Linked DNA regions of Homo sapiens. The protein of the gene in region 4 interacts with the protein of the main gene of each other region in a pairwise test. Each region holds a gene or a part of one and is shown on either strand. Other genes may lie near its edges. The genes, in order: PSMA3, PDCD6, GRAP2 and PTPN23.

Region 1 (7,024 bases), on a different chromosome or scaffold from region 4:
AAAACCTTGCTATAATATGAGAGGATCTTGATTTTCTACAACTAAGTAAAAGATAACATGCTGCTCCATTTTCTTAAATGATGAAGGGATGGCTTTCCTAACATGGAACACTTAACAGATGACTACCATTATACCTAAATATAAAAGATGGTAAGAACTGATTTCCAGAAGGACTTCAAAGGATTGGTTCGGTGAAGGAAACAGAGTATATCATGATAACATACTATACAATTCAAGGAAGATATCTGACTTCCTTTCTTAGCAGCTCTGCTGCATGTTGGTTCCTAGTGTTGCCATTATTAACTGACAATCATAGAATGGCTTCTGCTTGCTTCACAACTGAAACTAGGAGGGCGGAGGGGAGGAGGTGGCAAGAGGGGTAAAGGCAGTAGCAGTAATGATGGACCGGTTAATAAGAGACTCTGAGTGTGATGTAAATAGTATGTTTATTAAACAATAGAGCCCATTGGAATTTTTTTCTTCCACGTATTGTTAGATGTAAAACCTGATACACTACCATACAGACAGGTGATTGACTAGACCTTGTTTATGTAGTTCTAATGTGGAATACTTAGAGTTGTTATGAATTACGATTATCCATAACTTTTGAATCTAAAAAGCTGGCTACACAACGTATTTTGTTGGAATCTTTTTGTAATACCAAATGTCTACACTCTTTGATCTAGAGAATCACAAAATTTTAGAAACATCACTACCCAGGTTAATTGACTTTTTTATTGTTTACTGTCCAAATACCTGTTACATATTAATAGTATTCTACTTTATATACCTGTAATAAACTATTCAGGGTTTCTTAAGCTGGTTGTTGAAATGTTTTGTAATACTGCTCTTCTTACCTTGTTATAGGAACTTTTATAATAAACCTGAAAAAGTGAAACATATCTTTCCCAAATAAATAGCAGATTATATAAATGAGCCAGCTTCATGGATCATGTATTGAAATAATTAGTTGTAACCTATAAAGTTTGTAAGCATTCTTACAATAGAGGCAATCTTAAGATTACTATTATTAGGACTTAAGAGATTTGAGAAGTTGGGAGCTAACAAATTAAGACCCTAATGGTATATGTCCTTAACCTGTAACAGGAGTTTATTTTGTCAAGCTATTTTTCCCATCCTATTCATTACTACTAAAAAATATTGCTTAAAAACATTTTCTTCCTTCGTGAGGCTTCTTAGAATGTTAAATTTACCTTCTAAAAATTATACACTAAGTTATTTTACAGGAAAACAGCTTCTTAGGATTAATGTAATATATATATGCAAAGGTCAAATGAAATATTTTTGTGGATGGTAAGAAAAATTTCAACTTACATTTTTGCAACTTCTTTAACGATATCACGGCAGGTCATTTCTTTCATCTATAGAAAATAAAATGTATACTGTTCATCAGAAGAACATTTTCCACTTGTGTAATAACTATTTTCACTTTTATACTCAGATATAAAACCAAGGAAAATAACCTAAAGTCTGAAAAAGACCAGAATCGAAGTTTCCTGATTCATATTTTAATGTTTTGAAATTTATACTCCAGGCTGGGTGCAGTGGCTTGTGCCTGTAATCCCAGCACTTTGGGAGGCCGAGGCGGCCGGATTGCCTGAAGTCAGAAGTTCGAGACCAGCCTGACCAACATGGTGAAACCCTGTCTCTACTTAAAAATACAAAAGAGCTGGGCATGGAGGTGGTGCGCGCCTGTAACCCTAGCTACTCGGGAGGCTGAGGCCTAAGAATCTCTTGAACCCAGGAGGCAGAGGTTGTAGTGAGCCGGGATCACGCCACTGCACTCTAGCCTGGGCGACAGAGAGAGAGACTGTCTAAAAAAGGAAAAGAAAAAAATTTATACGCCAAAAAAGATATTCTGAGATAACCTGTAGTTACCACTAACTTTGTGACAAAATTATAAAAATCCACAGCCATCTATGAATCTGTAGGCAGACCTGAAGTTTGAACGACTGGTGAAGACATCTGATTTTCTTTATAGCCAAGTTAGGATAACAAAATGCAAACAAGTCATTAATATTTACTATATGCAAGATACAGAAAGATGAAGGAAGGAGTAAGAAGTTATCCTTCGTGGAACTATTCAAAGCAAAAATGCAAAATACCAGGGAAAGCTTTGAAGAACCAAGATTTGAGCAGGTTCTTAGAATATAGATTGGATTGGATTTGATTTCAAGAAAGATGAACGTGTAAAGCAGAAGTGGGAAGCCAAAAACTTTTTTCCAAATTAGAATTAAGCATTCTTTCAATGAACATTTGGAAATCAAGGTAGAAAAATATCCCTAGGGCCTAGCTGAGGAGTCTGTATGTTGTTGGGTTTTGATAGTAACCAGTCCAAGATTTTGTTATTAGACGTGGGTTTCTGAATAGACAGGCATTTCTGAACAGACATGACAGGATCAAAACAATGTTTGAGCAAACTGCCCTTCATCTACTGTGGATATGTTGGGGGATGATGGAATATAGTGAAAGATAATGGGTGCTCATACAGCAGTCTAGACTTAAGGTGATTCAACTACTATATATTAAACTAGATTATCTTTTATTTTTTAATTTTGAAATCTGGATGCTCAAGCTCTGCCTGCACAACCACATGAGGAAGAAGGAACAATGACAACAAAAATAACACTAAATTTAAATTTAAGAGTACTACTTTTAGGAAATAGACAAACCATTATTTGGGTACAACTAAAGGCAACTGGCATGGACTCAAATATTTTGGGGAAGAAAAAGACTAAAAGTTCTAAGGAAGAAAATGCGAACCTTGATAGTTTGAAATAGTTAAAAAGACAGTGTAGAAACTGCTTAGGCAGTTTGATTATGGACTATTAGATGATACTTGGGTCTGATAATGGTATAAGGAGAATAAAGTATTTAGGGATCCAATATTACGCCTGCAGCTTTTTCCAAATAGTTCATGGGGGAGGGGGATGTGTAAGTGGTTAACTGAAGTCTAACTAGATAGGTTTGTTGTAAGCTTAGGATGTTTACAGTTCTTCATGTTAAGTTGAGCGTGATGGGAAGGGAAAGAATGCTGATCTTTAAATTTTTGTCCTTAGTTAAGTTCTGTATTTAGTGAATTAATTGCATCCTAAAAAGTCAAACTTGAAAAGCACATTTTAAATGGCAAATCTATTTTTTACATGTTTGTGAAGTTTTTATTTTTTAGTAAACAGACCATCAGAAGAGAACAATGGTACAGAGCAGGGGTCAGCAGATGGATTTTGTAAAGCATCAACTTGTAAATATTTTCAAGTTTATTAGCTGTATGGCTCTGGTTTCTGTTCCCTGTTCCAAATGTTAAAGTCTACTGTTGTATTCTAAAAGCAGCCATGGACTGAATGTAGCTGTGTTCCAATAAAACTTACACAAAAGCAGGCAGTGGGCCATAATTTGCAACACCTGATTCACAGCATAATTTTGTCACAAACTGAAAGTGTTCCTCAATTAAAGTGATTTTTTTTTCTTGATTTTTCTCTGGGATTTATTGTTTTTCCCATTCCTTGCTAGGATTTAACTACAGAAAGACAGATAGTAACTGCTCTAAATATTCTAATTTCCTTTATTTTTTTGAGATAAGGTGTCGCTCTGTTGCCCTGGCTGGAGTGCAGTGGCGTGATCATAGCTCACTGTAGCCCCCAACTCCTGGCTGGGGCTCAAACAGTCCTCCTGCCTCAGCCTCCCAAGTAGCTGGGACTACAGGCACGCACCACCTCACCTCGCTAACATTTTGTTTTGGGAGATAGGGTCTTACTCTTTTGCCCAGCCTGGTCTTGGAACTACTGGGCTCAAGCAGTCCTCCCAACTTGGCCTACCAAACTGGTAGGATTACAGGGGTAATCCCCCTCAACTGACATAAATATTCTAATTTTCAAATTTCCATATAATAGTATGGAGAGATGAAAACAAAAGGAAAAGAGTAGAAGATAGGAACCTAGCATCATACTAGTAAGTGTGCAATGGAAAAGAACATAGGTCTAAGACTCATAAGGTCTGGATACTGTTCAGAACCAGCTGATTCTGTGGTCCTATGCAGTGTGTTTAATCTGCAGTTGAGCTTGGGCTAAATGACCTCTAAGATCCTTTTGTCAGCTTTACTAAAATACGAAACAAATTAGGTTTTATAGGGGGTTCTAGAACTTAGCATTGTATAAATGCCAAGCACTAATAAGTATTTTCTAGAAGCTGGTCTTAAATAAGTTGAATGAGTAATTAGTTGAGCAGGGTTCTAGTACAGCATTAACATTAAATGTATGTGAAATTGTATCTCACTTCAGTTTACCAAAACACTGATAAATGGTATGCCTGCTTTTTAGGCAAGTTTCTGACAGGTAATCAATAATATTGAAACAGTATCCATGAAGTCTTTAAGTTGATCAACGCATGGCTAAAAGGAAAACCAAGTTTTTAAGAAAACTTTTTCACACTAATAGCTGAATTTTGTGAAAGAAAAAGTGGGTAGTCGTAAGAGTGTAGGCTTTATGCCTTACCTGGCTAGGAGCAAAGCTAAGAGAACCGGTGGAGCACAGCCAGACATAAAAGCTGTGTTCCAAAGAAAGAATATAGGAAAAATATAACTTTTTATTAACTCAAAATTTTAAACAAAATTTTCAAACTAGAGCTCACAGAGATTCATAAATAGGTTTCAAGGATTTTGTGAAATCATATCAAAAGTTGTGTTTTTCTAGATTGAGGCTTTATAGCAGTTATTCAGAATCTATAAAGGGATGTATAACACAACTCTACAGATAATATGTTACCAGCTTTCCCATTCAGTGACTTAGCAGCTTCATAAACTCTCAACATCAAACCACACTATATCCTTACACCGAGCTTCCCCAGCCACAGGCCACATGGGGCCAAACACAAATTCGTAAACTTTCTTAACACATGATGAGATTTTTTTTTAAGCTCATCAGCTATCATTAGTGTTGGTGTATTTTATGTGTGGCCCAGGGAAGCCAAATGATTGGACATCCCTGCCTTAGACTGAAATGTCTGTGGTGATAAAATTTCACTGCATTAGGATGACGACATAGTAAAAATTCAAGCATTAATTATTACCTGAAGCTTCTCTATTTCCGTCTTTGCAGCTTGCCTGGCTTTGCCGATGGCACAGCCCCAATAACCCTATTTAGAAAAAAATATATATAATCACTGAATTAGTACACTATCATATGTAATTAATGACTACTAATGTTTCTATAACCTAGTGAAAGGATGCTAAATGACTTTTAAAAGCAAGTATAGAAAAATATAGTCAAACACATTCTGATGAATGCCAAAGGGCTCAAAAATACTAAAATACCAAACAATTCCAAAACAACCTGTATTTTTAATAAAGGTATATCCAAAAATATGTAAATTATGTAATCATATACACTTTAAGACATTTTGGGGAACAGGAACGGAAAAGATTTTAGCACTATGACAATGAAAAATGAAATTATATATTCCTGAGAGACAGAAATAAAGTTAATTCCTATGAGTTCAGTACTCTAAACCCCCAATTTTATTATTTTGTAAATTTTTTTAAAGATAAGGATGCACAGCTGGGTGTGGTGGGTCATGCCTGTAATCCCAGCACTATGGAAGGCCAAGGTGGGCAGATCACCTCAGGTCAGGAGTTGGAGACCGGCCTGGCCAACATTGTAAAACCCTGTCTCTACTAAAAATACAAAAAAATTAGCTAGGTGTGGTGGCAGGTGCCTGTAATGCCAGCTACTCCAGAGGCTGAGGCAGGAGAATCGCTTGAATCTGGGAGGCAGAGGTTGCAGTGAGCTGAGACCGCGCCACTGCACTCCAGCCTGGGCAACAGAGTGAGACTCCATCAAAAAAAAAAAAAAAAAGGATGTACACATATATACTTCTGTTACAGCAAAATATATTTAAGAATCTTCATTTTCTTCAATTAGTAAAAACGACAAAAATGTAAGGATAAGAAAACAGTTAAGAAACGGTAACAGGCCGGGTGCAGTGGCTCACACAAAGTGCTTGTAATCCCAGCACTTTGGGAATCTGAGGCACGTGGATCACTTGAGGCCAGGAGTTCCAGACCAGCCTGGGCAACATGGTGAAAGTCTGTCTCTACTAAAAATACAAAAATTAGCCAGGTGTGATGGTACAGGCCTGTAATCCCAGCTACTTGAGAGGCTGAGGCACAAGAATCCCTTGAATCCGGGAGGCAGAGGTTACAGTGAGCCAAGATTGCACCACTGCAGTCCAGCCTGGGCAACTGAGCAAGACTCTGTCTCAAAAAAAAAAAAAAATGGTAATAATTTAGGGAAAGCTCTTAGAAATCACATTTAAACCTTCTCTTTAAAAGGGAAGGCAGGGCAAGGTGGCTCACACCTATAATCCCAGCATTTTGGGAGACCAAGGTGGGCGGATTACTTGAGATCAGGAGTTCGAGACCAGCCTGGCTAACATGGTGAAACCTCGTCTCTACTGAAAATACAAAAATTAGCCGGGTGTGGTGATGCATGCTTCTAATCCCAGCCTACTCGGGAGGCTGAGGCAGAATTGCTTGAACTGGGGAGGTGGAGGTTTGGCGCCACTGCACTCCAGTCTGGGTGACAGAGCGAGACGCTGTCTGAAACAAAATTAGGTCCGGCACTGTGGCTCACGCCTGTAATCCTTGCACTTTGGCAGGCCGGGGTGGGCAGACCACCTGAGGTCAGGAGTTGGAGACCAGCTGGCCAACATGGCAAAACCCCATCTGTACTAAAAATACAAAAATTAACCAGGCATGGTAGTACATGCCTGTAATCCCAGCTAATCAGGAGGCTGAGACAGGAGAATTGCTTGAACCTAGGAGGCGGAAGAGGTTGCAGTGAACCAAGATCGAGCCACTGCACTCCAGCCTGGGAGACAGAGTGACACTCCATCTTATAAATAAATAAAATAAAAGGGATGACATGGCTGGACATCGATGCTCACGCCTGTAGTCCCAGCATTTTGGGAGTCCAAGGCAGGAGGACTGCTTAAGGCCAGGAGTTTGAGA
Region 2 (7,024 bases), on a different chromosome or scaffold from region 4:
GTCTCCAGCTCCACAACCCTCAAACTAGAACCACACCAGTTCCTCCCTGGTCTCCAGCTCTACGACCCACCAATTAAAATAACATCAGCTCCTCACAGATCTCCATCTGCATGACCCTCAAACTAGAACACCTCTCCCACCTGGATCTCCAGCTCCACGACCCTCACAGAACAGCCAAACCAGCTCCTTCACTGTCTTCAGCTCCACAACCTAAGACATCAGTGGCAGCACCAGCTCTTCCCTGGACCTCCAGCTCAACGACTCTCATAGACTTAAAAGGCAGCACCGGCTCCTCCCCAAGGCTCCATCTCCACCACCTTCAGATTTGAACAGCGATAGCACCAGCTCCTCTCCAGGTCTTCAGCCCCAAGACCCTCCCTGACCAATCCCTTCTTACGAAATTCAGCAGTCAAGAAAACTGCAGCAGAAGTAAATGAATAAATGTTTTGTTTTCAAATCGATGTCTCTTTTATGTTCATGAGTTAACTTTTCTACTTTCCATTAGCCTTGCAATCTACTTATGTCCAATGTGAAACAGAAACACACCATTTGAAATCACGTTTAAAAACTTAGTAGTATTTTTAAAGAAAATCACCACACAGCTGTAGATGCGATCTTATTTCTCTCTGCCTGTGCAGAAGTCTTATGAAAATTCGAACTATGAATTTACTTTGTTGAGATTCCCAGAATACACATTAATCCCAACTGTTACTCCCCTCCTTAAAATCTTTTAACATATTCCCATCACTTGAGCATAAATGCCAGCTCCCATCCACAGCCCAAAGTGCCCAGCACGGCCCTGCCCTCTACCCTGGTCTATGGTCTCCCCTCTTAAATGCCAGCTCCCATCCACAGCCCAAAGTGCCCAGCACGGCCCTGCCCTCTGCCCTGGTCTATGGACTCCCCTCTTAAATGCCAGCTCCCATCCACAGCCTACAGTGCCCTCACAGCCCTGCCCTCTGCCCTGGTCTATGGACTCCCCTCTTAAATGCCAGCTCCCATCCACAGCCTACAGTGCCCTCACAGCCCTGCCCTCTGCCCTGGCCTGTGGTCTCCACTCTGGTGCCTGGCCCAGCCCTCCCCACCCCTCTGCCCTGGCTTATGGTCTCCCCTCTTAAATGCCAGCTCCCATCCACAGCCCACAGTGCCCAGCACAGCCCTGCCCTCTACTTCGGTCTATGGTCTCCCCTCTTAAATTCCAGCACCATCCACAGCCCACAGTGCCCGGCACAGCCCTGCCCTCTGCCCTGGTCTATGGTCTCCCCTCTTAAATGCCAGCACCATCCACAGCCCACAGTGCCCAGCACAGCCCTGCCCTCTGCTCTGGCCTAAGGTCTCTCCCCTGTGCTGTTCCCTTCCTGCCGGACAGGCCTCTATCCGTTCCTCAAACCACACAGGCTCAGGCCTGACTCCAGGCCTTTGCCCTGCTGTGCCCTCTGCCTAGGGTGCCTTTCCCGGGCTCTGCATCCTCCTCTCAACCCGCTGAGCTCCAGCCTGCTGGTCGCCCCTCAGGTGGATGAACACATGGTGTCCTCTCGCCCCGCTGGCTTTTGCACAGGCTCTTCTCTGTGCCAGACACAAACCCTCTCTATCGGGGTTTACTCTCTAAATACCATTCGTCCTTGGAGTCTCCACTGAAATATCGCTCCCTGCCCACCCCCCTCCCTTGGACTTAACCTTGGTTAGGTTGCCAACCCCCGTCTCCTGACTCCGGGAAGCTAGATGCTCTCCTAGCACTCGGAACTTGCCCATCGCCACATTTTGCACACCCGTGATTACTGGGTTAGGTTGGCGCACAAGTCATCGCAGTTTTTGCCATTACTATTAATGAACTGCAGCACCGGCTCCTCGTTTTTTTTTTTTTTTTTTTTTTTGCCATTACTTTTAATGACTGCTGCACCAACCTATTAGAATCATTTATATTTATTCATCCATCATCTGCCTTCCCCTCTAGAAAGGAAGCTCCATGAGAATAGAGGCCAAATCTACTCAAATAACTCCACCTTCCCACACATTGTCAATAATCATTTACCAACTGACTGATAGAGAAATGCCTTCCCTGTTGCTGGGATGAGGCACATGACACGCCCCTTTGAAAGTCACTGTCATGGACAGTTGGCATTTGCTCTTCACTGCTGCACCCGTGGCGTGGCTGGGCTTAGGCTGATCTAGTCTGGCCTTGACTCTAGGCTGAGGGTGGGAACCATGCCTGCTCCACACGCCTCTCATTCCACAGCCAGAGCCGCCGTTCCCTGGGGCACGCATATCTCGTGGGGAAAATCAAGAGCCTAAGAGGGCAGGCCTGGCAGTGCCACACATTCCAGGCTTCTGCTTGTGCCGTGTCTGTGAAAATCTCGTTGGCAGAAGCAAGTCACCCAGCCACAAGCAACACCTATAAGTCCATCCACCCTCCCTCCGGCCCTGGCAAGGATGCGGCTGCGTCATACTCTTAGGGGGGAATGAAAAACTGAGGCCCAAAATTAAATCACCCATGGCAAGAAATGTCAGTCTCTGTGTCCCCACACTGGAATTCTTCTTCACCAGCGGGTTTGCCTGAGCTGACTTCCCTTTGCAATGGTGTCTGCAGGTTTAGGCCAATGCTGTTCCCCATGGAGGACAGAGAAGCCTCAACGGGCCTCTCTGTTGGGAAGAACAAGATATTAGCTTGGCGCGAAACAACCGCAAGCCACAGGTGGCCCACACCCCGTGAGACAGGAGAGGGGCAGAGAACTGTGGGAACTCAGGAAAGCTTGCATCCCTAGCCCCTCCCATGTCCCCAGCCCCTCCCGTGTCCCCAGCACCCTCCCCCGCATCCCCAGCACCCTCCTGTGTCCCCAGCACCCTCCCCTGCATCCCCAGCACCCTCCCCTGTGTCCCCAGCCCTCTCCCCTGCTTGCCCCATCTCTTTCTTTTTTTCATTTTCTTTCTTTCCTTTTGTTTTATTTGAGACAGGGTCTGGCTCTGTCACCCAGGCTGGAGTGCAATGGCACGATCTCGGTTTACTGCAACCTTCACCTCCTAGGCTGAAGCAATTCTCCCTCCTCAGCCTCCCCAGTGGCTGGGACTACAGATGCACGCCACCATACCCAGCTAAATTTTTTTTTTTTTTTTGGGAGAGACAGGATCTGCCATGTTGCCCAGGCTGGTCTCAAATTCCTGAGCTCAAGTAATCCTCCCACCTCAGCCTCCCAAAGTGCTGGGATTACAAGCATGAGCCACCGAGTCCAGCCTGCTTTATTTTTCTCTACAGTACTTGGAATCTTCTAATATACTAAGGACACGTGTATTTTCTTTCTGTCTTCCCTAGAACAGGAGCTTAATGTGGGCAGGTATTTTTGTTGATCTCATTTATCACCCTATCCCCAGTGCCTGGACAGGGTCTGGCACATGAATGGTGTGTTCTAAATAAATATTTTTAATAGATAAATAAATGAAATATCCTACAAGAGAAAGCTATATCTGGAACTCACCCACCAACAGAACCTAAAAGCCAAAGACCTTTAGCCTGTCTCTGCCTCTGAACACACCCAACCCCGGAGGAGCCAGCAGAGGAAAAAGAGGACAAAGGTGGGGAAGGGAGCAGGTGGTGCCCACCAAGTAAGGAACCCTGAGGCTTAGGCGGAACCTGAGCTGGAGAAGGGACTCATCTAGGAACTGGGTATGAGATTAAAGTTTAGATTTGTCTGGCCTGGATTTTGTTAACACCTAAACAAGGGTTATTCTATTCTTTTTTTTTTTTTTTTTTGAGATGGAGTCTCACTGCCCCCCAGGCTGGAGTGCAGTGGCGCTATCTCAGCTCACTGCAACCTCTGCCTCCCAGGTTCAAGTGATTCTCACGCCTCAGCCTCCCGAGTAGCTGGGATTATAGGCGCGCACCACCATTCCCGGCTAATTTTGTATTTTTAGTAGAGATAGGGTTTCACCATGTTGGCCCCCTGGCTCACGCCCGTAATCCCAGCACTTTGGGAGGCTGAGGTGGGCAGATCAAGAGGTCAGGAGATCAAGACCATCCTAGCTAACATGGTGAAACCCTGTCTGTACTAAAAATACAAAAAATTGCTGGGCGTGGTGGCTCACGCCTGTAATCCCAGCACTTTGGGAGGCTGAGGCGGGTGGATCATGAGGTCATAAGATCGAGACCATCCTGGCTGACACGGTGAAACCCCGTCTCTACTAAAAAGACAAAAAATTAGCCAGGCATGGTGGCGGGTGCCTGTAGTCCCAGCTACTCGGGAGGCTGAGGCAGGAGAATGGCATGAACCCAGGAGGCGGAGCTTGCAGTGAGCCAAGATAGTGCCACCGCACTCCAGCCTAGGCGACAGAGACTCTGCCTCAAAAAAAAAAAAAAAAAAAAAATACAAAAAATTAGCTGGGCGTGGTGGTGGGCACCTGTAGTCCCAGCTACTCAGGAGGCTGAGGCAGGAGAATCGCTTGAACCCCAGATGCGGAGGTTGTAGTGAGCCAAGAGCGTGCCACTGCACTCCAGCCTGGGCGATAGAGCAAGCCTCTGTCTCAAAAACACACATAAAAAAACCTTCAAACGAATGTAAGAATTATTATTTTTTAAAGTACAGCTTTAAAAATGCCCCTTACAAATACATCAGTGTTATATTAAGGCAAACCTACTTCAGAAGCACAAAGTTAATTTCTTATAATTCCAAGAAATATGTGAATGTTAAAAAAACCCCAAACACCCGAAAAGGGATCAAACTCAAGATAGTTTGGAACATTTTATTGCAAAAAGAAGGGCAGAGAACAGTCTTCTTCTTCATACCTGTTCACCACAGACCTCCCTGAGAGCAGTAATTTTTAGCAGCTCTCCTGTGCAAACAAGTCTCATGAAGGAATCAGTGTATGGGCCACAAATACCTTCTCAGTGTGGTTTCACCTAGAATACAAGCACTCAGAAGCACAAATTTAACTGAAGTGAGAAACCAGGCCATTTTGTAGCTTCAGTTTTTCTACCAGTAATATATTAATTTCTTGAAATAGCCTAATAATTTAGTTCTACTATCAAAACAGAAGCCCAATCTGGGAGCACAATTATTATAGAAATCAAACTAATTTCAATCATATTAGTATAGGAATTCATATTAGTATAGGCTGAGGCAGGAGGATCACTTGAGCCTAGGAGTTTGAGACCAGCCTGAGCAAGACAGTGAGACTCCATCTCTAATTTTTTTCTTAAAATAAAGAAATTCAGAGAGAAGAAGGAAGAGGATATGTGTTTATCCAAGGACAAATTTTGTGTGCCTGTACATACAACACAACTATGAACCTTCCTTCACGCAGCTCACAACCTAGTAGTGAGAGGGAACTATGAAAACGTGAGCCCCCACGATGAGGAAAAAGGTGCATATCAGAGAAAAGAAAAATGCTGCGATGATCCAATGGCAGGAGCAGCGCGCATCCACTTTCTTTGTTTTTTTGAGATGGGGTTTCGCTCTGTCTCCCAGGCTGGAGTGCCGTGGCTTGATCTCAGCTCAATGCAGCCTCAACCTCCCAGGCTCAAGTGATCTTCCCATCTCAGCCTCCCAAGTAGCTGGGAATACAGGCGTGCACCACTACACTCATTTACTTTTTGTAGAAACAGGGTCTCACAATGTTGCCAAGGCTGGCATCCTGAAGGGCGGGTGGGGCTTCATCCTACAGAGATGAAAGGCAGAAGAAGCTTAGAGCCCAAAGCAAAGGGGTGGAGGACAAGGGCATCTTCAGAACAGAGTGGCTCGGCTGAGACATCCAGTAGGATGCCACCAGGCAGAGGTGTGGTGGAAAAACACAGGGCCACGGTGAATGCTCACATGTGAGGAGCAAACCACCACAGAACACAACAGAAACACGGTGTACTAAATCAGGCTTCAAATCGCAGCCCTGCAACTTGAGAGCTACCACAGGTAACCCGGAAAGGGAGCACCGACAGCAATGCCCACTGCCTGAGGCTGTGAGATGGACCAGAAACCTGTGCTTACTAACAACCTGCCTTATTCCAGAAGGAATTCAGGAAACACAGAGACACTCACGGTACAGCAAAATAAAGTAAATGTGAATCATATTGGTTGAGAAGAAAGTGAAGAGTCTAAGACTATGTCATAAAGTTTACTTCTACTCTAAACTCTCATTACTGGTGAGCCACCAACCTGACTTTAAATTTTCTAGCAGCTAAATTGAAGAGGAAAATGTCATCAGGTAAACGTTTATAAGATGCAAACAAAACAGAACGGCCACCACAGTTTCTGAGAACACGCGCAGCTCCAGGAGAAATGGGGTGGCCATTTCCTGGGGCTGCCCCGCAGCAGGTGTGTGAGCCCGAAAGCCAGCGTCTCTCAGGGTGAACAGTGACTACGGGCTTCATGGGGCCACATGCCCCCAGCACAAGCTGAGGAAATCTCCCAGGGCAATTCAGGCAACAGGGTCTCACAGTGTCGCCCAGGCTGGTCTCAAACTCCTGGGCTCAAGGGATCCCCCTGCCTCGGCCTCCCAAAGTGTTGGGAGGTCAGGCGTGAGCCACTGCACCTGGCCCTGCACTCACATTAGAGAAGAGGGCTTTGCATCCTGAAGGGCGGTGGGGCTTCATCCCACAGAGATGAAAGGCAGAGGAAGCTCAGAGCCCAAGGTAAAGGGGGGCGCCTAAGAAAAGTGACTCCATTGGGACCACGGTGAGAGGGTCCCGATACACAGCTTGGGTTAAGCCACTGATTTCAAAGTATCTCAGGAATGGTGGACTCAGCACCCATCAGGCAATTCTCTCAAGCAGTCTCCTGGTAGATATTTAGTAGCAGCTGAAATCAAGATTATGTTCTGATAGACACTTGCTGATGGTTAAAGAGCTATATACACTTTGAGGACCAGCTGAACTGGGGCAGGACTAACTCCCTCTGGTGAAAATACAGGAACCCAAACACACAAGTCAGAGCAGGAGGTGTCTCCCCCACCCCCAAACAATAATGCTGACCTTGGATTTGGGTTAAGTGCCTAGCCCAGCGTGTGAGTGTTGAGTAAGTGGAAACCATCATCACCATCATCA
Region 3 (7,024 bases), on a different chromosome or scaffold from region 4:
ACTCAAGCACTTAGTTCTTTCCATTATCTTCCCATCTTCTTTTCTGGGAGAAAGAAGCCCAAGGGCCCTGTGACTTCAACTCCACCCACTTTCTGATGACTCTGAAACCCCAAGCCCCAACCTTAGCCTCTCTCCTGGGTCCAGACTGACATATCCAGCTGCTCCCTGAGCTTTTCTTCTTAGTTGAAGAATTCAACTCACAGTCACCCGCATGCAATCTGAAGCCCATGAGCCCTTTCTCAGCCCTGCCTCCTCTCATGTATCTTCTATTTCTGTAAAGCCGTCACCACCTACTCAGTCTCCCAAGCCAGAAATCCAGTGGCATCCCAGAGTCCTCCTCTCCCTTAGCTTCCAAGATTGGTCAAGAAATCCTGCCTGTTTGCTTCCTGAATTTCTCTAAAATATATCCTCACCTCCTCTTAGCCTAGGCCCTATCATCTCTTGACTGGAGGCCTGCGCTCATCTTCCTGCAGTTTTTCTGCCGACTTTAGCCTTGCAATCTATCTTCACATTCTGATCTCTGATACAGAGCTCTGTCGCTCTCTCGCTCTCTCTTAATTAGAGACAGAGTCTCTCTCTGTTGTCCAGGCTGTAGTACAGTGGTACAATCAGAGCTCACTACAGCCTTTAACTCCTGGGCTCACACCCTCCTCCCGCTTCAGCCTCCTGAGTAGCTGGGACTACAGGTGCGCTTCCACCACGCCTTGCTAAGTTTTATTTTTATTTTCATAGAGACAAGGTCTCGCTTTGTTGCCCAGGCTGGTCTCAAACTCCTGGGCTCAAGCGATCGTCCACTTGGGCCTCCCAAAGTGCTGGGATTACAGGCATGAGCCATCGCACCCAGCCAGAGCTCTTTCTGAACTCTAATTCTTACTGTTACTTCCCTGCTCAAAATCCTTTAAGGGCTCCCCCTACATTTCAAGATATTCACAGTCTACATTCCAGCCACCTGGAGGCATTTCATTCCCAGAACACACCACACCTCCTCAGAGCTGAAGGAGGAAGTCCATTGCCATCTGACTTGGCCTCAGTAACTCCTTTCGTTGCCAAGGCAAGTGGTCTCTCCTCTACATATGGATGCCTTTTCTATCTATTTCTGCTTTCTTCTTTATCATCACACTTCTATCAGTTAAGATATTTTCAGGAGCAAGAAACATAAACTAAAAATGGCTTAAACAATAACAAAGACTTGTAATTTCTCAAAGTCCAGAAGTAGGAAGGCTCCTGGGTATCATCTAATTCAGCGGTTCAGTGACATTATCAGAGTTCTTTCCATCTTTTGCTCTGCTATCCTTATTTAGAATTATTGTTCTAGTCTATATCAAAGACTTAAAAAAAATTTTTTTTTTGAGAGAGGCTTGCTCTGTTGCCCAGGCTGGAGTCCAGTGGCAAGATCACGGTTCACTGCAACCTTGCCTCCTGGGTTCAAGCAATTCTCCTGCCTCAGCCTCCCGAGTAGCTGGGATTACAGGCATGTGCCACCAGGCCCGGCTCCTTTTTGTATTTTTAGTAGAGATGGCATTTCACCATGATGGACAGGCTGGTCTCGAACTCCTGGCCTCAAGTGATCTATGTGCCTTGGCCTCTCAAAGTGCTGGGATTACAGGCGCGAGCCACCACACCTGGCCTCAGACTTTCAAAACATTCTCAGTGGCGGTGTCAAATATTTTGTCTTTTAATGGTGAATCTCATTTTTTGAGAAACCAGAAGCCACATACAGTCAAGTCTGGTGAGTAATATGAGTAACTGAGGTAGACAATAACATTTGGGGTCACAGTCAAAGTCAGGCCACAGAGTAACAAGACAGAACTTTTGGTTTTGTTTGGGATCTGGCTTTAAAAGCAAGTTTAGAAAAGGCATCCCAAGTATCTTGGGTTCCAGCCAAATATCTGTGAAATACACAGCATGTGAACACAAAGAGTTACTGTTTCCAAAGCTGGCCCCACTGGGATGTTTAAGTTTTAATCTGCCTGTTTAAAAAACAATAACAAATTGAATTTTTGAAAAGTTTCCTGGGCCTGGTGGCTCACGCCTGTAATCCCAGCACTTTGGGAGGCCAAGGCAGGTGGATCACTAGGTCAAAGGATCAAGACAGTCCCGGCCAATATGGTAAAACCCCGTCTCTCCTAAAAATATGAAAAATTAGCCAGGTGTAGTGGCGCATGCCTGTAATCCCAGCTACTCAGGAGGCTGAGGCAGGGGGATCGCTTGAACCCAGGAGGTGGAGGTTGCAGTGAGCTGAGATCCCGCCACTGCACTCCAGCCTGGCGACAGAGCAAGACTCTGTCTCAAAAAAACGAAAAACAACAACAAAAAAAAGAGAAAAGTTTCCTGGTTACCTGGAAGAGAAAAAAAAAAATACACCGTGGAGTAACCATTCTTCCTTCTCACCATCTGCTGAGATGAGGAACTTAAGGTGCTAACTGGGACAAATGAATTTCCAAAATAGAAAAAGGGATTCAGGGAAGTCCTTGAGTGCTGAATTTGGGAGGCCAAGCCACAGTGGGGTGACATGAGTGGACGGCACAAGTGGACAGAAATAACCTGGGGTCAGGAGAAGCTGACTCCAAAGGTAAACCCACGGCTCCTCCACAGGCCTGGGGTAAATCCTAGAACAGCTGTTGAGTTCTTTCAACTTATTAACATATTTTCCTCTAAGTCCAAAAGGGCCTTCTTTGCCTGGCAGCCCCTTTCTCTTGTTTTTTTGGTGTCCTCCCTCCAATGTCTTTGTCTTTCCTTTTCTTCCATGTAGATTTTAAGTAACCAAGAGGAGTGGTTTAAGGCGGAGCTTGGGAGCCAGGAAGGATATGTGCCCAAGAATTTCATAGACATCCAGTTTCCCAAGTAAGTATCTGCAGCCTGCTGAGATGGGCCTAGCCACACACACTCCTCTTACATTTCCAGCAGTCACTACAGTTATCCATGGGAACCCAAGACATTGTCAAAAATGGCTGCCTCTGGAGCTCTCTCCGGAGAGCCTCCAGAGCATGCAGCTGAAGGCCAGGGCAGGAGGGAGACTTTGCATTTCATTTCATTCCCTTTTGATGTTTACACCATGTGCATGTATTGCTATTTTAAGTTGTTCTTAACTTTTTTTTTTTTTTTTTGGGAGTTGGGGTCTCCCTCTGTCACCCAGGCTGGAGTGCGGTGACTCCATCACCACTCACTGCAGCCTAAAACTCCTGGGCTCAAGCCATCCTCTCACCTCAGCCTCCCAAGTAGCTGGGATTACAGGCACATGCCACCACGCCAGGCTAGTTTTTGTATTTTTAGTAGAGACAGGGTTTTACCATGTTGGCCAGGCTGGTCCCAAACTCCTGACCTCAAGTGATCTGCCGCCTCAGCCTCCCAAAGTGCTGGGATTACAGGCGTGAACCACCATGCCTGGCCTATTTTAAGTTTTGGGTTTTTTTGGGTTTTTTTATTCATGTGTTTATTTGTTTTGAGACAGAACCTTGCTCTGTTGCCCAGGCTGGAGTGCAGTGGCATGATCTCGGCTCATTGCAATTCTCCTGCCTCAGCCTCCCTAGTAGCTGGGATTACAGGTGCATGCCACCACACCCAGCTAACTTTTGTATTTTTAGTAGAGATGGGGTTTCACCATGATGGACAGGCTGGTCTCAAACTCTTGACCTCAGGTGATCCACCCGCCTCGGCCTCCCAAAGTGCTGGGATTACAGGTGTGAGCCACTGCACCCGGCCTATTTTAAGTTTTTATAAAATGAGTTTGTAAACTCAAATTATCTATAGTGATTTCAATCACGGCGTTCCCCAGAATTCCAAAGGGGACGCTATTGGCCACCCCACTTCGGGAGCTGCTCTCCTAAGCGCTTCTCTGTGACCTCCTAATCCTAACCATCCTCACCAGGCTCTCACCCTTCACTCAGTGGGTGGACAGACACTCCCTGCCTTCAGTAAAGCATGCTCACCCCAATGAGAGAAGTCAGCGGGGGGAAGGGGAAATTCTCTTCCTAAAGAGGAAATGAAAAATTGAGATTGGGCTTCGTTTGTCTCAAGAATTGACCACAAGGGTTAGATAGAAATCTAATCTTGCCTCAGAACCAGGGTCTAGCTCAAAGAGCAAAAGCTTGTTAGAAAACCACAGTAGTATTGGTGACTCCAGCAAGGTGCAAGAGCACCAGTCTTGGTAAACCTGAACTGACCACCAAACCAAGAGAATGACCACTGACCTTGACGGAACCCTTGATGCTGCCCAGGAATCTGCTAGGTGACCTCTGCATACCCCACGTGCTCCTCAAACCTTCAGCCCCTCCGTGCATCACTCTTAGCCCGTGACCTTGATTCCAGGTTCTCTGGAACAATGAAAGCCACCAGAAGTGAAGCTCCCAGACCCCCCTCCCCCACCGCATCCACCTGCCTCCTGCAAGTGTGCTCAAACAGTCGGCCTTTCCTGCAGCTGGCTGGAAGGAACTGTCACTGCTTCTAGCAGAAATTCTCCTCTCTCTCTCTTCCACGTCAACCTCCTTTCCCTCTCTGCTGGATCATTCCTGTCAGCAAACACACACGCTGCAATTTCTCCCAACTTACCAAAACACAAACAAACAAAACCAAACCCAGAGGCCAGGTGGGTTTTGTTGTGGCTGATGCCTGTAATCCCAGTCCTTTGAGAGGCTGAGGGAGGAGGATCACTTGTGGCTAGGAGTTTGAGACCAGCCTGGGCAACATAGCGAGCCCCATCTCTACAAAAAATTTTTAAAAATTAGCTGGTCGTGGTGGCATGCGCCTATAGTCCCAGCTGCTTGGGAGGCTGAGGCAGGAGGATCGCTTGAGCCTGGGAGTTCAAGGCTGTGGTGGACCATGATTATATCACTGCACTCCAGCCTGGGCAGCAGAGAGAGACTCTGTTTCAAAGAAAAAAAAAATTTAAATAAATAAATAAATCAAGAAAATTCTTAATCCCAAATCCCCTTCCACTTGCCACTCCATCTCTTCAAAAGGAGTGTGTGCATTTGCTACTTCCAACTCCTCATCTCCCGACCCTTCCCACCAGGCTCCCCATGGGCTGTAGCTCCCAGGGGTCATCTCAGCATGACCTGCCCTGGGGATCCCCCCTCCCACTGGAACACCTCTTTCATTTTGGCTCCAGGACGTCCTTCCTCCGGTTGTCCTCCCACTGCCCTGGCTTCTCCTCCTCAGTCTCTTGTGTTGGTTCCTCCCACTCCCCAGTCCCCTATAGGTTTAGAATGTCTCCTTTTCAGTGAGGTCTTTCTCATCACCATACCTTACATTAATCTCCCACCCACAGCGCCCCATCTCTCCTCTCAGTTTTCATGTTCTCCACAGCACTTACCATCATCTGGCACGCTTCAGATCTTAATTATTTTGTTCTTTTGTGTGTGTCCCCCTCGACTAGAATGTAAGCTCCCTGAGGGCAGGGGTGTGTGTCTGTTCTGCCCACTACTGTGTCCCCAGTGCCCAGGAGGGGCCCAGCACAGTACTAGATGTTCAGTAAAGCTGTTGAATGAATGAATGAATGAATGAACGAACGAATATGTATTATTGAAACCATGACCACTCATGTCTAATATGCAATGTGTGGTGATTTTTACAAATCTTTAAAGAAGCCCCCTATCAGATTGCAGTCAGAGGACAAATGTGTATTTCCTAAATCCCCTTCACTTCTGAAATGTTTCCTTTGCGATATGGCTGCTGTGGTGCATACTCCATTCCTCTTCCCATCCCCATTACATTTCCCACACGTGGCAGTGGTGTGTGTGGTGGCCTCTTGTTTAGCCCTGTAGAATTGTGTGGCAAATACTCAGGCAGAATCTCCAGGCCACCAGAAACTGCTGCTTTCAGCCCTCTCAGAGCACAGCCAAACTTCCCCCTCAGTCCCAGTGGGGGACTCAGTCTCCAGTAAGTACATCCTTCCTGCTACCTATGTCTCAGTTTCCCAAATTCTAGAAAGCACAGAGAATTGCTCACAAAGGAATCCAAAGCCAAGGCCTGACGGGCTTTTATCTTAAAGGAACATGCGTATGAGCCTTCTGGTGACAGCAATTAGAGCAGCCACCTTGAAGCAATGTGACACAGTCCCACCTTTGGCCGCTGAGTGATTGCAGACACTCATTTTGCTTGTCTGTGGTGGAGAGAGGTCTCTGGCCTCCTGCTTTGAGGCTGCAGCCACAGCTTGCCTGGCCCTGTGTAAGTGTTTGACCTATTTCATACATGCCACGCTGTATGCAGCTGTACCTCCAGGGGCTGCCACCCTGACCATTCTGCTAAAAGAGTAATTTCTCCTGTTTCTTCTTTTCCACAGTAAAGATTATTTCCCAGCCTGGATTTTTGGGGCAGGCCCAGGATCTGGTTGTATAGACGCCGCTCTCTGGCGGCTGCCAGCCTCGCTGATTTCCAAGCATGTACACTGGACTCCCTAGGAACACTGCAGCCTCTGCTAGGCACACTGAGCAAAGCCCCCTTGTGCTCCATGCCAGCCTAGGTAACGTGACGCCCTGGGCTGTAACTTTCCTTTAATACCCAGGGAGGAACCTCTAGGCCACTGAGACCTCAGGGCAGGCATGAGCACCCCAGGCCCTGCTCAGCCGGCTGCACCTGGTTGGCTCCAGTGCCTGAAGCCTTCCCTTCCCTCCCCAGTGCATCCTCTGTCCTCGCAGCTCTGGTCTATCTCTTCCGCAGCTGCCGGCAGGCGGCTGCTTCCTGCAGTGAGTCACTCCCACACTGCCCCATTTTGGTGCAGCGACACATTTCCATGATTCGTTTCCCAGGCTGGAGAGAGACTTCTCCTGGAGAGAAGGAACAAAGAGGGTGAATCAAGGGGAATGCTCCCTCGCCTTTCCTGAAAGCTGCCTGGAGCACTGGTTTGATTTCAAACAGCACCTGGTCTCTCTCTGCTCCCTACTGTACAGAGTCCCCAGCCTCTTTCCCTCTGGGTCACCTCTTCTCCACGTCTCCCTCTTGTCACTCCTGTGTCTCATCCTGATCCTTTTGTTTGATCTCGCCCCCACAGATGGTTTCACGAAGGCCTCTCTCGACACCAGGCAGA
Region 4 (7,666 bases):
AAATTAAATTCTAACCCTCAGCTCCAATTCACTGGCAGAGGTTCCCACAGCTCAGAGCAAGCATAAAGCAGGACAAGGGTGCCAGTGGCAGAAGGCAGAGAAGGGGCTCTGCAGTTGGGGAAGGGGGTGCAGGTTGGGAAGAGTCCCCAGGCTGCAGTGGTGTCTGCACAGTCTCCTCCAGTGTCTATAGGAGTAATTGTTTCATATCTGATACCACCTCGGGCTAAAGGGCTAATGAGCAACTCCTCTCCTGGAGGCCCAGGTGCATGGAGGGAAGTCACTGGTCACACAATACCCTTTGGGTCGGTGTGAATCGTCAGAGCAGCAAAGGCTAAGTTCAAACAAAAATACTTCCTAGGAGTTTCTGGGCCAAGATTTTATCTACTGCATTCCCATATATTTATGGTCACCATCTCTAAATTTCCGCTCAGCTGTAATTCAATCATTTGAGAAATATTTTTCTGACTGCCAACTATGTAGAGGGTACACTGTTAGGCTCTGGGGAACACAGAGATGCTTCTCAGGTAACACACACTTGAACAGGGGGGTTAAAACACAGCATACATAACTGTCACCAGGGAAAGGATGAAAAGAGTTAAGGAATTAAGAGAAGAGAAAGATTAATCCAGGTAGAAAGATTAAGAAAGGCTCTGCAGAAAGGAGAGCTTAAGTAGACCTTGAAAGTTGGATGGGAGACAAGAAAATGGAATTCACGGAGATTGAAGAAGGGCACCTCACCACCCCACAGGGCAAAATGAGACCTCTTCTAGGCAGGAGGAATTCCATGACCAACGGCACAGAAGAGGAAACAGAGTATGGTAAGGAAACAGCAAGTGACTGAGAACAGAATCTAGGGTACCTCTATCAGATGCACACAGTAGATGAAGCACACAGTGGGGACTCAATAAATGCTGAAAGAAGTGGGATAAGTCTGGAAGAACTCTAATGGAAAACTAAAGATACTGGCTCTATTCCAAGACTCCGTCTCCAAAAAAAAGATACCGGATCTATTCTGTAAAACAGAAAACAGGAGTTTTGGCCAGGCGCGGTGGCTCATGCCTATAATCCCAGCACTTTGGGAGGCCAAGGTGGGTGGATCACGGGTCGGGAGATCGAGACTATCCTGGCTAACACGATGAAACCCCCTCTCCACTAAAAATACAAAAAATTAGGCAGGGGTGGTGGCGGGTGCCTGTAGTCCCAGCTACTTGGGAGGCTGAGGCAGGAGAATGGCGTGAACCCGGGAGGCGGAGCTTGCAGTGAGCTGAGATTGCGCCACTGCACTCCAGCCTGGGTGACAGAGTGAGACTCCGTCTCAAAAAAAAAAAAAAAAAAAAAAAAAAGAAAAGAAAAAGAAAACAGGAGTTCTGTTGTGTCTTAGAAAAATTCATCCAATTGTATTTGTATGAAACAGCAGATGAAGGCCTGTAATCCCAGCACTTTGGGAGGCCGAGGCAAGCGGATCACCTGATGTCAGGAGTTCGAGACCAGTCTGACCAACATGGCAAAACCCCATCTCTAATAAAAATACAAAATTAGCCGGGCATGGTGGCGCATGCCTGTAATTCCAGCTACTTGGAAGGCTGAGGCAGGAGAATCGCTTAAACCCGGGAGGCTGACGTTGCGGTGAGCCGAGATCGTGCCATTGCACTCCAGCCTGGGCAACAAGAGCGAAACTCCGTCTCAAAAAAAAAAAAAAAGGTAGGAAAAAGAAACAGCAGATGAAGAAGAGAGCAACGTCTGGATAACCGTTAACAAAATTCTAGAATTTTGGATCAATTACCCTCATTTCCTGGCCCCAAGAGGCTAGATGATGGACTCAAACACTGTCTGAACTAAGGCAATGGTGTATGGCGATTAGAGGGGAGACAGCTTCTTGGGAAACTACTTCCAAACCCATTTTCTTTTTCCTATTTGTCTTCCCAAGCGTCTCGCTAAGTGGTGCACCATCTAGATTGGGGCTTACTCTGGCATCTGCTGTGCTAAGCCCACAAGGCCCCCCACCTGCGACGGCCTCCTGGTTGTTCCTTTTCATTTCTGCTCTAGCCCTCAGTGCTACCAATACAGCGGATGTCTCGGAGGGCACCTGTGTTCAATCACCACACCTGAACCTCTCCACAGAAGTTCCTTGCCTTAGTCAACGCCAAACCTGCCCGTCTGTTCTTCCAACACAGTAAGATTTCTCTGAGCTCTACAACACTGTTTATGCCCTCCAGTCGGTTACGAAAAGCAGTAACCCTCCTAAAAATGTCGTGGGATTGTATTGTTTGGTCCAAAGAGACTCCCGAATGGGAGACCATACAGAATCGCAGCAATTGTAAAACAAACCCTCACCGCAGGGGTCGGGCATCTCCCTGGGCCACCGGGGCTCACGTCTTAAACACACGCCCCTGAGCCATCCCCAGTGTCTGTCCCAGGCGGGCGTGGACTTGACAGCGCACCGAGGGCCGGGCGCAGCAAAAGAATCCGCACGGTCAGGGCCGCCCACCGCTCCCGCGCGGGGCGGTCCTGGCATGGAGGAGGGGCGGGGCAGAACTGGGTCCGAGCGTCAGAAGGAGGAAGTGTGCTGCCTCAGTGGGAACAGCGGATGACTCGGGGCAGAAGTCGGGAACCGGGTTCAGATGAAGATGCAGGTGCTAGCACGGGGCTATCGGGGAGGAGAAGAATGGCCTGCGGGCGCCGGGGTGTGGGACAGGCTGAGGAAAACCGGCGAAGGCCCCTCCTGGCCTCACCGGACCCTGCGACCGGGCCTGAGGAGGTGATGGGCGCGCAGGGGGGCGTCACGCGCTTGCAGACGACGGAGATACGCGGCGGATAGGGGGGAAGATGGAAGGCAAGCTCACCTTCTTCACAGCTGGCTGGAAGTGAAAGTCACCGGCCTCCTTCAGGTCCAGCCAGATCATGGGCATGCGGGGCACGGCCTCCATGGCGGCTGGCACCCGCCGGCCACCCGGCCACTCCCGTAGCTGCTGCAGCTGCTGGCTCAGCCACGAGCCCAGCCCCGCCCCTTCGTGCCGGAAGTCACTGGTCACGGGAGGGAATGAAAAATGCCAGCGGCCTGCCGGGAGTTGCAGTGAACCCAGCCACCCGCTCGCGTAGTCTTTTGCGCAGGCGCTGTCCCTGTTGCGCATGCTCAGTCTTCTTCGCGCGGAGGGAGTAGGGCGGGGAGGAGCTCGCCAGCCCGAGGCGAAACGGCTTCTGGGATAGTAGTCTTCATCCACTAAACTGAGAGGCGCGGAGCGAGCTTATTCCCCGCTCCCGGGCCAAGCCCAGCTGCGGGTCCCGCCCGCCGCGCTCCTCCCTCCTAGGAAGAGCATGAGACCTCACCTATGAACTTGCCCTCCCACGTATTGTCAAGAGCCGTGGAGGACTGGTGCTGTGGTAGAGATGACGTGGCGGGCGGGCCGCTGGAAAGAGATGACGCGAAAACGGGCCTTAGAGAGGGTGCGGAGGGAGCACCTGGCCTGAAGGAGTCGGGGCTGAGAGCTGGGGGTTTCAGTCCCAGTGCTGCGAAGGCTTTCGAGCTTTGGAACAGAATCACTGACCGGAGACTGGCCTACTCAGCCCAGCCTGGGAGGCCGGGCAGTGCCCAAGGGAGACGGACGATAGGGAGGGAGCGCCTGGATGGAGGGTCTCAAGCGGAGTGAGGAGGCCCCGGGCCCTGTGGGGAAGTGGGTGGGGGAAGGTATACGGCCAGGTGAGCACCCAGGGACGCCCACAGTATCTGGAAGGAGACCACGGAATGGAGAGCACCTGTTGCCTCTGGAGAGGGGACCTATAGAGCAGGAATTGTTAAATCATATGGCTGTATCACCTACTTTTAGAAATAAATAATAGGCTACTCGGGAGGCTGAGGCTGGAGGTTCAATCGCTTGACCTGGGAGGCGGAGATTGCGGTGAGCCTAGATCTTGCCACTGCTCTCCAGCCTGAGCGACAGAGCGAGACTCCGTCTCAAAATAATAATAGTAACAATAGAAATAACAGAGAATGGCCTGGAGATAGTGAGTGCAAAAGTGCGAGCTGGGAGATCAGTGAGCCTTTTGTAGTCTTCCAGGAGACAGGTGATTGTGGCTTGGAGCAGAGGGAAGTAAAAAGTGAGCAAAGAAATATTTTGCCCACTTTGAGAAATATTTGAGGAATATTTTGGAGACAAAAGTATCAGAACTTGGAATGGATGGATGTAAGGGCATGAGGACGTCGAATATGATTTCCAAGCTTCTGGCTTGTGCAGGTGGGTGGCTGTGGGGCTGTTTACTGATAAGGGAAAACAAGGGAAGAGCAAAGGTTCAGGTCCGTGTTAAGCTCGAGGTCAAGGCCTTTGACTCGTTCTGGATGAAATGTGGAGACCACGATGCCGGGTGCGGTGGTTCACGCTTGTAATCCCATCACTTTGGGAGGCCGAGGCGGGCGGATCGCTTAAGCCCGGGAGTTCAAGACCAGCCTAGCCCACATGGCCAAACCCCGTCCCTACAAAAAATATAAAAATTAGCAGGACATGGTGGCTCATGTACGCCTGTAGTCCCAGCTACTCAGGAGGCTGAGGCGGGAGGAACCTTGAGCCCGGGAGGCAGAGGTTGCAGTGAGCCGTGATTGTGCCATTGTACTCCAGCCTGGGCGACAAAAGTGAAACCATGTGTTAAAAAAAAAAAAAAGAAAAGAAAAAGAAAAATTATGGAGACCGTGGGATGTGGGTGGGATCTGGGATTCTAAGACAGGCTTCACCCACAAGGTAGAGCCCAGGTCCCTTTGTTGTGAGACCTCAAACCCTTTCAAGACTTAGTCAAGGGCCTAGCTTCATTCCAGTTGGAGTTAGAGCAGAAGAAAATGAAATTACATGAATGTTCATAGCAGTACCATTTCACAGTAGCCAAAAGAGAAGCAATCCATGCAGTGATGGATGGATGCATGAATAAAGATGATGTGTGTACATACAATGGAATATTATTCAGCCTTAAAAAGGAATGAAATTCTGTTACATGCTGCAACATGAATGAACCCTGAAGACATTATGCTAAGTGAAATAAGCCAGTTGCAAAAGGACAAATACTGTATTCTGCTTATCTGAGATACCTAGTTAGTCAGAGTTATGGAGACAGAAAGTAGAATGGTGTCTGTTGGGCTAGGGGAGGGGAGAATGGAGAGTTACTGTTTAATGGCTGTATAACAATCTGAACAATTTAATGCCACTGAACTGTATGCTTGAAATTGTAAACTTTGTGGCTGGGCACGGTAGCTCACACCTGTAATTCCAGCACTTTGGGAGGCCAAGGCGAGTGGATCGCCTGATTTGGGAGTTCAAGACCAGCCTGACCAACAGGGAGAAACCCCATCTCTACTAAAAATGCAAAATTAGCCGGGCCTGATGGTGCATGCCTGTAATCCCAGCTACTCGGGAGGCTGAGGCAGGAGAATCGCTGAACCCGGGAAGCGGAGGTCGCGGTGAGCCAAGATTTGTGCCATTGCACTCCAGCCTGGGCAACAAAGAGCGAAACTCTGTCTCAAAAAAAAAAAAGAAAAATTGTAAACTTTGTTAGGTATATTTTACCACAGTTTAAAAAAAATAAAATATAAGACCTTGCAAATAATTTATTTAAAGAGAAAGAAAAATTTTGCCAGTTCTTCCAGCATCTTAGAAGAGCTTGTTTCTGGAAGACTTTTTTTTCTTTGAGACAGAGTCTTGCTCTGTTTGCCCAGGCCAGAGTGCAATGGTGTGATGTCGGCTCACTGCAGCCTTGGCCTCCTGAGCTCACTCAATTCTCCAACCTCAGCCTCCCTAGTGGCTGGAGTACAGGCGTGTGCCACCAGGCCTGGCTAATTTTTTCTTGTATTTTTTGTAGAGATGGGTTTTTGCCATGTTGCCCAGGCTGGTCTTGAACTCCTAGGCTCAAGCAATCTGCCTGTCTCAGCCTCCCAAAGTGCTGGGATTACAGACAAGAGCCACTGCGCCCAGCCTGGAAGACCATCTTGAGGTCACCTGGACAGAGATAGAGAAATTTTGGGCAAAGCTGGGCATGGTGGCTCACGCCTGTAATCCCAGCACTTTTGGAGGCCAAGGCGGGCGGATCACTTGAGGTCAGGAGTTCAAGACCAACCTGGCTAATATAGTGAAACTCCACCTCTACTAAAAATACAAAAATTAGCTGGGTGTGGTGGCGTGTGGCTGTAGTCCCAGCTACTAGGGAGGCTGAGGCAAGACAATCGCTTGAACCTGGGAGGTGGAGGTTGCAGTGAGCCAAGATTGCACGACTGCACTCCAGCCTGGGTGACAGAGCAAGACTCTGTCTCAAAACAAACACAAGAAAGAAAGTATGGGAAGGCCTACAACCTGCAAAACTGCCCGAACACAATTTGTAGTAAGTAAAATACAAAAGCATAAAGCAGCCTACCTTGGGGCTTTCTGATGGTGAGGCAGTGGTCAGCCATGAGGGAGCTGCAAGACCTAGGCACAACAGCTGAGTCCAGAGCAGGCTGGGAATTGGGAGACTACATCATAGCATTACTGAGCAAAGAAGCAGGCGGCTGCTTGGCCACAGGACACAGACAGCCCAGGACCCAAACTTGAGGCCAGCAAGGGGTCAGGATTAAGCTGTTGCAGTTCAGTATGGGCTGGAACAGGAAGTGAGAGAGGAAGGGGAGAAGTAGGAAGCCCTAAATTGGGCCTTGCAAGACAGAGAAGACCTATAGAGATGGGCATTCCAGGCAGGTGGAATTGCAGATGCAAGAGGGAGCTCTGGCGAGGCTCCAGGATTCAGGAGAGCTGGGCAGATGGGTCCCTATCTCATGAGCTTCCTACAGTGATAGCTTTGGCCCTACTGCCTTTCCTTCCCCTGGCCTCTACTCCCGAGGTGGAATGGGAACACCTTGTCCCCACATGGTGCTTCTGGAGTTGAACTACAACAAAAGAAATAAAGTATTCTGTGAGTTCCAGGGTGTATTCATTTGCTAGAGTGGCCATAGGAAAGTACCACATACTGAGTAGGTTAAGCAGAAATGTATTTCCTCACAGTTCTGGAGGCTAGAGGTCTGAGATAAGGTATTAGTAGAGTTGGTTTCTTCTGAGGCCTCTCTCTTTGGCTTGTTAATGGCCATCTTATCCCTGGGCCTGGTGACCCTGCCTTTAAACTCAGTCACATTCTGAGGTACTGGAGGTTAGGACTTCAAACATGAAATGAGGAGTAATGGAGGGGGCACATTTAGCCCATAACACAGGGTCACAGTGACATGAAGGGCAATTGGTGTGAAAGGCATCAAAGACCAAGAGGACCTTCACAGGCCTTGAATGCTGAGGGCGGGGATGGGTTGGTGGAGGTGAGACAGCAGAAAGGGTGACTCCGGGGCAGGGAGTGCCCTCCTAACATGTATTTCCAGGCAGGGTTGGGAGTTAGAAGCCTAAGACTTGATGGTCCTGGGGAAGAGTCTGCCTCATCACGAGGGGGCAGCACACCCTTTTCTCAAGACAGCCTCCCCATCACACCCAGCAGAGTTGGATGGGCCCTTAAAAACACACACACCCTTCCCCATTTTACCAATGTAGAAACCCAGGCCTGGACTGGGGAGGGGACCACCCAAAGTCTCAACAAGTGAATATACATGAGTCTGGGCTGCACTTTGGGAGGCAGAGGCAGAGGCAAACAGATCACCTGAGGTCAGGAGTTCAAGATCAGC

Evidence for each region.
Region 1: the proteins of PTPN23 (region 4) and PSMA3 interact in binary tests that used the Homo sapiens proteins (3 or more experiments, as listed by UniProt).
Region 2: the proteins of PTPN23 (region 4) and PDCD6 interact in binary tests that used the Homo sapiens proteins (3 or more experiments, as listed by UniProt).
Region 3: the proteins of PTPN23 (region 4) and GRAP2 interact in binary tests that used the Homo sapiens proteins (3 or more experiments, as listed by UniProt).

Annotation. Positions count from the first base shown.
Region 1 is NC_000014.9:58,261,832-58,268,855, reverse strand, and holds part of PSMA3 (proteasome subunit alpha type-3), read right to left. Parts: intron 5,152-7,024; coding exon 5,086-5,151; intron 3,492-5,085; exon of another isoform or gene 1,463-3,491; intron 1,383-1,462; coding exon 1,336-1,382; intron 1-1,335. UniProt on the Homo sapiens protein: Component of the 20S core proteasome complex involved in the proteolytic degradation of most intracellular proteins. This complex plays numerous essential roles within the cell by associating with different regulatory particles.
Region 2 is NC_000005.10:274,634-281,657, reverse strand, and holds part of PDCD6 (programmed cell death protein 6), read right to left. Parts: intron 5,647-7,024; exon of another isoform or gene 4,718-5,646; intron 1-4,717. UniProt on the Homo sapiens protein: Calcium sensor that plays a key role in processes such as endoplasmic reticulum (ER)-Golgi vesicular transport, endosomal biogenesis or membrane repair.
Region 3 is NC_000022.11:39,953,067-39,960,090, forward strand, and holds part of GRAP2 (GRB2-related adapter protein 2), read left to right. Parts: intron 1-2,752; coding exon 2,753-2,844; intron 2,845-6,988; coding exon 6,989-7,024. UniProt on the Homo sapiens protein: Interacts with SLP-76 to regulate NF-AT activation. Binds to tyrosine-phosphorylated shc.
Region 4 is NC_000003.12:47,376,358-47,384,023, reverse strand, and holds the start of PTPN23 (tyrosine-protein phosphatase non-receptor type 23), read right to left. Parts: upstream 3,004-7,666; 5' UTR 2,928-3,003; coding exon 2,844-2,927; exon of another isoform or gene 2,532-2,843; intron 1-2,531. UniProt on the Homo sapiens protein: Plays a role in sorting of endocytic ubiquitinated cargos into multivesicular bodies (MVBs) via its interaction with the ESCRT-I complex (endosomal sorting complex required for transport I), and possibly also other ESCRT complexes.